2 separate regions of the Homo sapiens genome follow, and region 2 is linked to region 1. The links come from fine-mapping of genetic effects on gene expression. Tissue or cell type: sigmoid colon. Region 1 holds a variant in brackets; the other region holds the start of a gene. All regions are shown on one strand. Distances are from middle to middle. Region 1 overlaps M1AP (meiosis 1 associated protein). Region 2 holds the start of DCTN1 (dynactin subunit 1).

What was found. PIP is the estimated chance that this variant, and not a neighbour inherited with it, causes the effect. A credible set is the group of variants that fine-mapping cannot tell apart.
Region 2: it holds the start of DCTN1, and the variant in region 1 is the best candidate, but not a certain one, in a credible set for the expression of DCTN1 in sigmoid colon (GTEx, PIP 0.55).

What each region holds. Positions count from the first base shown.
Region 1 is chr2:74,621,930-74,626,326 of GRCh38, forward strand. All of the region lies in intron 2 of M1AP (meiosis 1 associated protein), which reads right to left. Among named protein-coding and RNA genes, the nearest start is that of M1AP, 24 kb to the right of the region's middle. The variant A/G (reference allele first, on the strand shown) is at 1,860.
Region 2 is chr2:74,378,806-74,383,194 of GRCh38, forward strand. DCTN1 (dynactin subunit 1) reads right to left here and starts at 1,506. Exons shown (of 32, transcript NM_004082.5): 1 at 1,200-1,506. The coding sequence starts at 1,232. RefSeq lists an enhancer at 1,307-1,818.

The DNA.
Region 1 (4,397 bases):
AAACCCCACATCTACTAAAAAAAAAAAAAAAAATACAAAAATGAGCCGGGTGTGGTGGTGCACACCTGTAATCCCAGCTACTCGGGAGACTGAGGCATAAGAATCACTTAGACCTGGGAGGCAGAGGATGCAGTGAGCTGAGATCATGCCACTGCACTCCAGCCTGGGCCACACAGTGGGACTCCATCTCAAAATTAAAAAAAAAGACAATATAAAAAATTCAATAAATTTTTATATTGATTACATACTGAAATGATATTTTGGATATGTCAGGACAAATAAAATATTAAAATTTGTTTTGCCTGTTTATTTTTTATTTTATTTTTTGAGACAGAGTTTTGCTCTTGTTGCCCAGGCTGGAGTGCAGTGGCACGATCTTGGCTCACTGCAACCCCGCCTCCCGAGTTCAAGCGATTATCCTGCCTCAGCCTCCTGAGTAGCTGGGATTATAGGTGGCTGCCACCATGCCTGGCTTTTTTTGTATTTTTAGTAGAGACGGGGTTTCGCCATGTTGGGCAGGCTGGTCTCAAATTCCTGACAGGTGATCTGCCCGCCTTGGCCTCCCAAAGTGTTGGGATTACAGGCGTGAGCCACCGCGCCCGGCCATTGCCTGCTTTTTTTTTTTTTTTTTTTTCTATTTTTAAAGGTGGCTAATAGAAAAATTTGTATTATATGTGTGGCTCACATTACATATCTAGTAAATGGTGCTGATTTAAAGGATATAATTCAAGGAAGAGAGAGGGTAACTGATCACAGAGAAATGGTCTGATATGCAAGAAGGAAGGGTAAGCAAATAAATTGGTAAATATATGAGTAAAATGAAATAAATATTAGCTGTATAAAACAATAGCAGTAATGTCTAATTTGGGGGTAAAATACAGGGGCAAAAATATGCACGATGAGAGGGAGATGATCGGAGTTAAAGCATTCTAAGGTATTGTTTAGTGAAGGGTAGAGATACCAATTAATTTAGGGCAACCCCTAAAAGAAAATAAATAGATTATACACTTTAAAAAAAAATAGAGTGGAAAAAAAAAAAACAAACCCAAAATCAGATAGTAAATGGGAGAAGCAAGCAAAGAAAAGGCAGGACAAATAGTAAACACCAAGTAAGATAATCAGAATAATCTTAATAATAATAAGGTCAGTAATTACAATAAATACAAACTTACTTCCTAAAATATACCAGCTAAAAAACAAATTATTGGACTAGATTGAAAAATTCCACTGTATGTCATCTCTAATATGCATACCTAAAAACAGTAATAATTGAGAGTAAAATAATGTTTAAGGGCTGGGTGCAGTGGCTCACGCCTGTAATCCCAGCACTATGGGAGGCCGAGGTGGACAGACTGCTTGAGCTCAAGAGTTCAAGACCAGCCTGTGCAACATAGTGAAACCCCGTCTCTAAAAAAAATATAAAAATTAGCCAGGCATGGTGACCCGTGCCTGTAGTTCCAGCTACTTGGGACTTGAGGTGGGAGAATGGCTTGAGCCCAGGAGGTGGAGGTTACAGTAAGCTGAGATTGTGCCACTGTACTCTAGACTGAGTAACAGAGCCAGACTCTGTCTATAAAAAAAAAAAAAAAGAGAGAGAGAGAGTTTGAGGCATTGAGACATACCCTCAGACATTTAAATTTTATCAGGTGGGCTCCACGCACTGATATATTTTAAAACTTCCTCAGGCAAATCTAATGTGCAGCTAAGGTTGAAACTGGTTTAACTTATGTTTTATTTAATTAAACTAATTAATTTTTTTTGAGACAGGGTCTCGCTCTGTCACCCAGGCTGGAGTACAGTGGCGTGATCATGATTCACTGCAGCCTCAAACTCCCAGGCTCAAGCGATTCTCTCTCCTT[A/G]GCCTCTGGAGTAGCTGGGACTACAGGCATGAACCACCACACCTGGCTAATTTTTAAAATTTTAGTAGAGACAAGGTCTTGCTATGTTGCCCAGGCTGGTCTCGAACTCATGCGCTCAAGCGATCCTCCCAACTTGCCTCCCGAAGTGTTGGGATTATAGGCGTGAGCCACCACACCTGGCCTACAATATACTGTTAATTAAAAAAAATTAGATAATGGAATCAGCAGGCATAGTATTATCTCATTTATGTAAAATTTAAGTCTTTTCTCTGTGTATCATCTATCTATAGAGTTGTCTTGAAATAGGCTGACACTCATATCATTGTTGGAGGGATTGGTCACAAAGGCATAAGCAGGCTAGTGCTAGATCAGCATAAGCCAGCATTAAAGTAAAGGTGAAGAGGATTTCAGAGGCTGTAAAGCTGTGGCACATTCTAGTTGGTTATCAGAAAGTCAAGTTAGAGAAATAAGGGATAAAAAATTGGTAATAATTGGGTAAACTCCAGGAATCAGTAGACATATATTATTGACCTAGAACACTTGAGTATGGCTAATATTTGTTGGACATCATGTAAATGCCTTGGCTTGACAAAATCTTCAAGAATTCTATTTCTGGGCTTTCATACATGAACTTTTTTGGGTTATCTTATAGATAGATAATATGGCCCTAGGCAGTTAGGATAACTTAGATTGATGTTTCATTGGAGGTCAGGTCAAGAAACCAGAATGCAGTTTAGGGAGGGGATTAAAAATATTTAAAAAGAAAATCAGAATTCCCTTTATAAAAAATCAAATCTTACAAAGACTCCCTATATATAAATTGGTATTTTATCAGCATAAATGTATTTTTAATATTTATGTGTTTTGAATACATACATTCATAGGGTTTGAAATTCAAAAGGATATGTAATTCTATCATTTTTCTTCCCTAAATAGAAGTGATGGCAATACTTTTCTGTATCTTGCTTTTGTTGATTATTGTATTTGAGCAATCATTTCACATCATTATAGAGTATTCCATTAATGGATGAACCGTGATTTTATGTAACCAATCCCCTATTTACAGACATTCAGTTTGTTTCCAATCTTTTGTTACTGCAAACAGTGCTAAAATGAATAATCTTGTACTTAAGTTATTTTTGTACATGTGTAAATATATATGTAGGATAAGGTCCTAGAAGTGAATTTGCTACTTTAAAAGATATGTAAATTGTGATACTGTCACCAAATTGCCCTCTATAATGTCGATTTATACACTGACAAATGGCATATAAGCATGCTTATTTCTTCAAATTCTCATGAAAATGTGTCACAGAAAATTTTTGCCAATCATATAGGTGGAAAGTGACATCTCTGCATATTTGGGTTTCTCTTACTATGAATGAGGTTGATGTATTTTCATGTCTCAATGTCATTTATATTTTCTTTTCTGAAAACTGACTGTGTATATCCATCCTCATTTTCTACTGAGTTATTGAATGTTTTTTTCTTACTGAGTTGTAGGAGTTTTCTATGTATGTAGAAAATTAACTCTACATGATATGAGAAGCAAATATTTTTCCTCATAGCTATTTATCTTTAGAATTTGCATGTGTGTTCTTTTCCAAGCATACATTTTCTGTTTTTATATATTATTAATCTTTTATTTTTAGATTTTTTGGTTTTATATTATGCTTAGAAAAGCCATTCCTATTATTTTCTCCCCATGGTCTGTGTATTAATTATTAATTTATTGCCTCTCAACTCCAAATTCATCCTTCAGTACATGCTCTGTGATAAATTCCTTTAAGCATTTCTCTTTTACAGTGAGCACAATGTTAAGTTTTCTTAGTAAAGGGCACTGGAGGGACATAAAGAGGCTCTCCTATTGTTACATGCAGCATACTGTGGGTCAGCTGTGGGGTATAGGGACACCTAATGGTGACCCATCCATGCATTCAGAATTCATAGTCTTTCAGTGACTTCATAGCCCTGCCTGGCCTAGTAATCGCCTTTCTGCAGCCCTTTCAACATGGACACCATATGATTCAGGCCTCCTGCCTGTACTAATGCCTAATTCCCTTTGCTTACTTGTTCCTCCCCGTGAGAAGTTTGTCTCCTGTGGCCATCTCAATGCTACTGCTCTTCCAACATGGAGAATACGTATTCTGGGCATCCTGCCTACACTCTCTCTGCATGCCTGTAAGCCCAGCCACCACTGTAGCTCACCTATCACTGGAGAGTAGCTTCCTGCTTTCCCAGGAACTGCAGACCAACTTTAGCCTTGACAAACTAGTGAACTCTGCCATCCAGTGGGTTACAAATACACATTCTGCAATTTGGTGTGAACCCCAGCCTCGGGAAGGGAGTCCCCCTTTCAAGTTTGACTTTCCTTAGGATCTCTCCCTTAGCCCTAGGGTACCATATAAATTCCCTTATATCTTATAGGTAATCTATTATCATAGTTTAATATGTTAAGCTATATTTCAGTTTTTTTTTTTTTTTTTTTTGAGATAGGATCTTGCTTTGTCACCCAGGCTAGAATGCAGTAGTGATGCA
Region 2 (4,389 bases), 240 kb before region 1:
TCCTTCCTGATCTGACTCCTCCCACCCCCATCCACAAACCCACCATGAAACCCCAGATGCTTCACCACAGCCCATTCAACCATTCAACTCCCCTTCTACCTGGCCTGAGTCTTGTTTGGTCAACTCTCTATCCCCAAGCTCTGGAGATTCTTCTCCATGCTATGTTGCTATAAAAAGGAAAACACAGGCCAAGTAAATTGGGTGGATCTACCCCTCGCTCTGTCCCCAAGACTCTGCTCAGTGGTCCAAATGAATGGTTTATCACTCCACAGATGGGCAAGGCAAAACAACAGACTAAGACACTGTCCTTGGGCAGCTCTTAGCTTCGGCACACCCATGATGACTGAACACAATAGAAAATTAGGTCCCAAATAGGCCCATGGTTTAGAAGAAAATCACACTTAGGTCATTTTTAGCAACAGCAACTCCATGAACCAGGGGCCTTGCAGCAAACAGATGAATGAGGCATGATGAAGTGATACCATCATCCTAAAGACTCTATGGGAGACCCTTCTGATACTCTCATTTATAATAGCTTCAGAAGGGAGCCCTGGCAGAGCCAGGGAAGAGCCAGGACACCTCCCAGCCTATCACTGCCTAATTCCCTTCCCCAAACAGCTCATCCAGGAAGGTGAGGATGTAGTTCCCAGAGGCTCCAGGACCCCAAATCACACCTGGAACAGCAGGATGGCTCTCATGGACCTGACAATAAAAGGAATTGCCAGTGATATAAAAGGCTGAACCCAAAGTCAGAGACTCCCCCACTTTCCAACCCCAATAAGCCTCTCAGAACCAGGGGGCCACAACAGTAGCTACAGATTCTATCTCAGAAGAGAAAGAAAGCAAGTAACAAATAACAAAGCAGCTCTTAAGAAAGGCTTCACTGTAAGACCTCTCTGAGCCATCATCCCCATTCTGAGTCCCCAGGATAGTCTGGACCCCCTCAGGAGCCCCTGGTATGAGGGCCAATTAGAGTCAGAGGTCAGGCCTTGCTAGTCCCCATTTAGGGATCAACTCTGTAAAGGGAAGCCTGTCCAGCCTTACACCACCAGGGCTTCGAGGGCTCCTTAGAAAACACAGTCTGAGTGCCCTCAGCTGAGCTCCAGCCTATCTCCCCAGCCCCCACAGCAATGATGTCCACAGGCAGCCAGGCCTTCCCCAGCAGCCCTCCAGGGCCATCCCAGATTAGGGCCACTTACCCGGCTGTACACGTGCCTCTTGCTCTGTGCCATGTTGCTCACCCGGCCTCTACCCCCTCCCCCAGCTGGCCAAAGACAGAGAGAAAAGGTAGAAACCTAGGCAGGAGGGTCAGGGCGCTGGGCCCTCATAGAGGGACACAGGAGTCGTCAGGCACAGCCCTCCCCAGTCCATGGGCCTCACTCGGTGGCCTACACGGGTAGGGGTGGGGGCAGTGATGGGGGCTGAGGAGCAAGTCCCCTCTGCTGCCTGAGGATTCCTGAACCCAGAGACACAGAATCCTGCTTGCCAGCTGATGAGTCTCACTCTGCGCTAGTGCTGCTCTAGACTTGTCAGGAACCGTGCTAGCCTCTGGGTCCTAGTGCCCCCCTGCTTCACGTGGGCCAGAAACTAAGGGCTGGGCATACGCCACAGACCCTCAGCACTCAACTCTTGAATACACTGTCCTAGGGCTGGAAGCAGTCTTGACACGTCCTCCTAGTCTGTACCCACTCACCATCACTGTTCCCCTCTCCCCCAGGATGTAAGGCCTCAGCAGGCCCATAAGCATCAAGTGACACTTCAAAGCGATCAGCTGCCTAGAGCCTCCACACAGCCAAAATAAGGGTCTCTCATCTACCTTTCTGGTGCTCTTCTCTCTCCCTCCCCTCTCTAAACTCTGGACTCAGGGTCCAAATTCATGTGAGTAGGGCCTGGATTTCAATCTCACACTGAGCCAGAGGAGGCAGGCCCTGCCCAGGAGGCAGCAAGAGAAGGGCAGTAATGAAGGCAACTTCACACACATAGCAAAGCAAGCCAAGTACCCTAGCCCCCTCCCACAAGGCTGGCAAAGGTTGCCATAGTCACCCTTCACCCTTTATGGTTGTTATAAGGGGCCAGGTTGTAAAACACAAGAGTATCAGACTCAACTGGATTACTAAAGGCAGTAGTCAAAAGCAGAGAGCCCTTCTTTCTTCTTGTAGCACAAGGCCCAGTCCACCTCAGTCATCTGCCCCTTGTACTCTTGGCCTTGCCTCCTAGCATCTCAGACCCAATGAAATGGTTTATTTTCTACGCTTTTGTATTTCACAAAAATTCTTCAGTAACCATGTATTACTTTTATAATTAGAATTGTTTAATTTAATGAGATTATGCATTCTAATGAGAGGTCTCCAAGGGACTATGTTACCACACTGCTTTCATTCACTGGCCCATCTATCATGGGCTAGAAACCAAAAGACCAGGGTCCCTGCCCCTACACAGCCAACAAGGTTGGCCTGGGGTCTGACCTATGGCTCCACTGAGTATGGTATGGATCTAGTTCCCTTGGGCCTAGGGACGCCTGTCTTTTCTGCACTGGGCTTACTTCACTGGCAGAACAGTGACTTTACCCCGCTCTACCCTCTTAAGATAGGCCAGGTAGCCCAACAGGAGAATGACAGCCAACATTCAGAAATATGGCCCCAAAACACAATTCCAAATCTTCAGTCCTGGCCAGACCCCCTAGGAAATAATCTCTCTCCTCCCTGCAAAATCTCCATGTCGCCCCCTCCTTTCCCTATTCGCCATTACACAGGTGGGCAGGGCCAGGCACATCCTTGCAGCCTGGACCTCACATGTTCGGAGCACTTTACAGTCTATAGGACACCTTAAAAAAAGACATTTTATAGAACCATGGTTGAGTACTGGTTCTAGACTCAGGCTACTTTCCTGGCTTTATCACTTGGTAGCTACATAAACTTGGTCTAGTTACTTAACATCTCTATGCCTCAATTTCCTCATCCGTCATAGGGAAGTAACAAAGAACATATCTCAGAGAGGTATCGTGAGGATTAGCTGAGATAATCCAAACAAAGCATCCAGGACACCGCCTGGTATTTAATAAGTGCTAAATAAAAGTTAGCTAAGAACAATGTCATCATATATAGACATTACAATAACCCCATTGAGAGGTTGGCCAGGGATGATGCTGACAAGGCAACTGAGTCTTTGAGAACTGAGCAACTTCCCTGAAGACACACAGACTGTGAGGAGTAGAGCCAAAACTGGAAACAACCTGACCCAGAGCCCTCTGTGCTTTCTACTACCCCTCACCATTACCACAGACATATCTAGGCTTCCAAGGCCCTGCTCTTCCTGTAGGCCACACTGCCTTAAAAAATTCAAAAGAGCTCAGATCTAAAAATAGCCTCACAACTCACTAACCACATAGGTATCAATAGTCCCCTAATTTCTTGGAATCTGTTTATTTTCCTATGAAATGAAAATAATATCTGCCATATCTACGTCAGTATCATGAGGTTCAAAAAAGCTAAAGCATATACAGGTACCTTGTAGGCCAGGTGTGGTGGCTCATGCCTGTAATCCCAACACTTTGAGAGGCTGAGGCCGGTGGCTCACTTGAGACCAGGAGTTCAAGACCAGCCTGGCTGACATGGTGAAACCCTATCTCTACTAAAAATACAAAAATGAGCTGGGTGTGGTGGCGCATACCTATAATCCTAGCTACTTGAGAGACTATAGGCATGAGAATCGCTTGAAGCCGGGAGGTGAAGGTTGCAGTGAGCCAAGGTCGCACCACTGCACTCCAGCCAGGGCGACAGACTGAGACTCAAAAAAAAAAAAAAAAAAGCACCTTGTAAAAAGTACAGAAATTATAGAACTGCAAAGAATTACCTGACATGATACTAAATGGTATATACATCTACACAATAAATATAAGAAATTATAGACAGGAGAGAGGTGAGCTAGAAAGAAAGGGAGTACCTAAGCATGCCTTGAATTATGGGAATTTTAAAAAATATGTGGAGGCCGGGCGCGGTGGCTCACGCCTGTAATCCCAGCACTTTGGGAGGCCGAGGCGGGTGGATCATGAGGTCAGGAGATCGAGACCATCCTGGCTAACAAGGTGAAACCCTGTCTCTACTAAAAATACAAAAAAAAATTAGCCGGGCGCGGTGGCGGGCGCCTGTAGTCCCAGCTACTCGGGAGGCTGAGGCAGGAGAATGGCGTGAACCCGGGAAGCGGAGCTTGCAGTGAGCCGAGATTGCGCCACTGCAGTCCGCAGTCCCGCCTGGGCGACAGAGCGAGACTCCGTCTCAAAAAAAAAAAAATAAATAAATAAAATAAAAATAAAAAATATGTGGAAAGGCCTACAAAGCCCTGTAACTTGTGAACACAGTATGAACAGAGGCAGAAATAACTTTGCTTGAC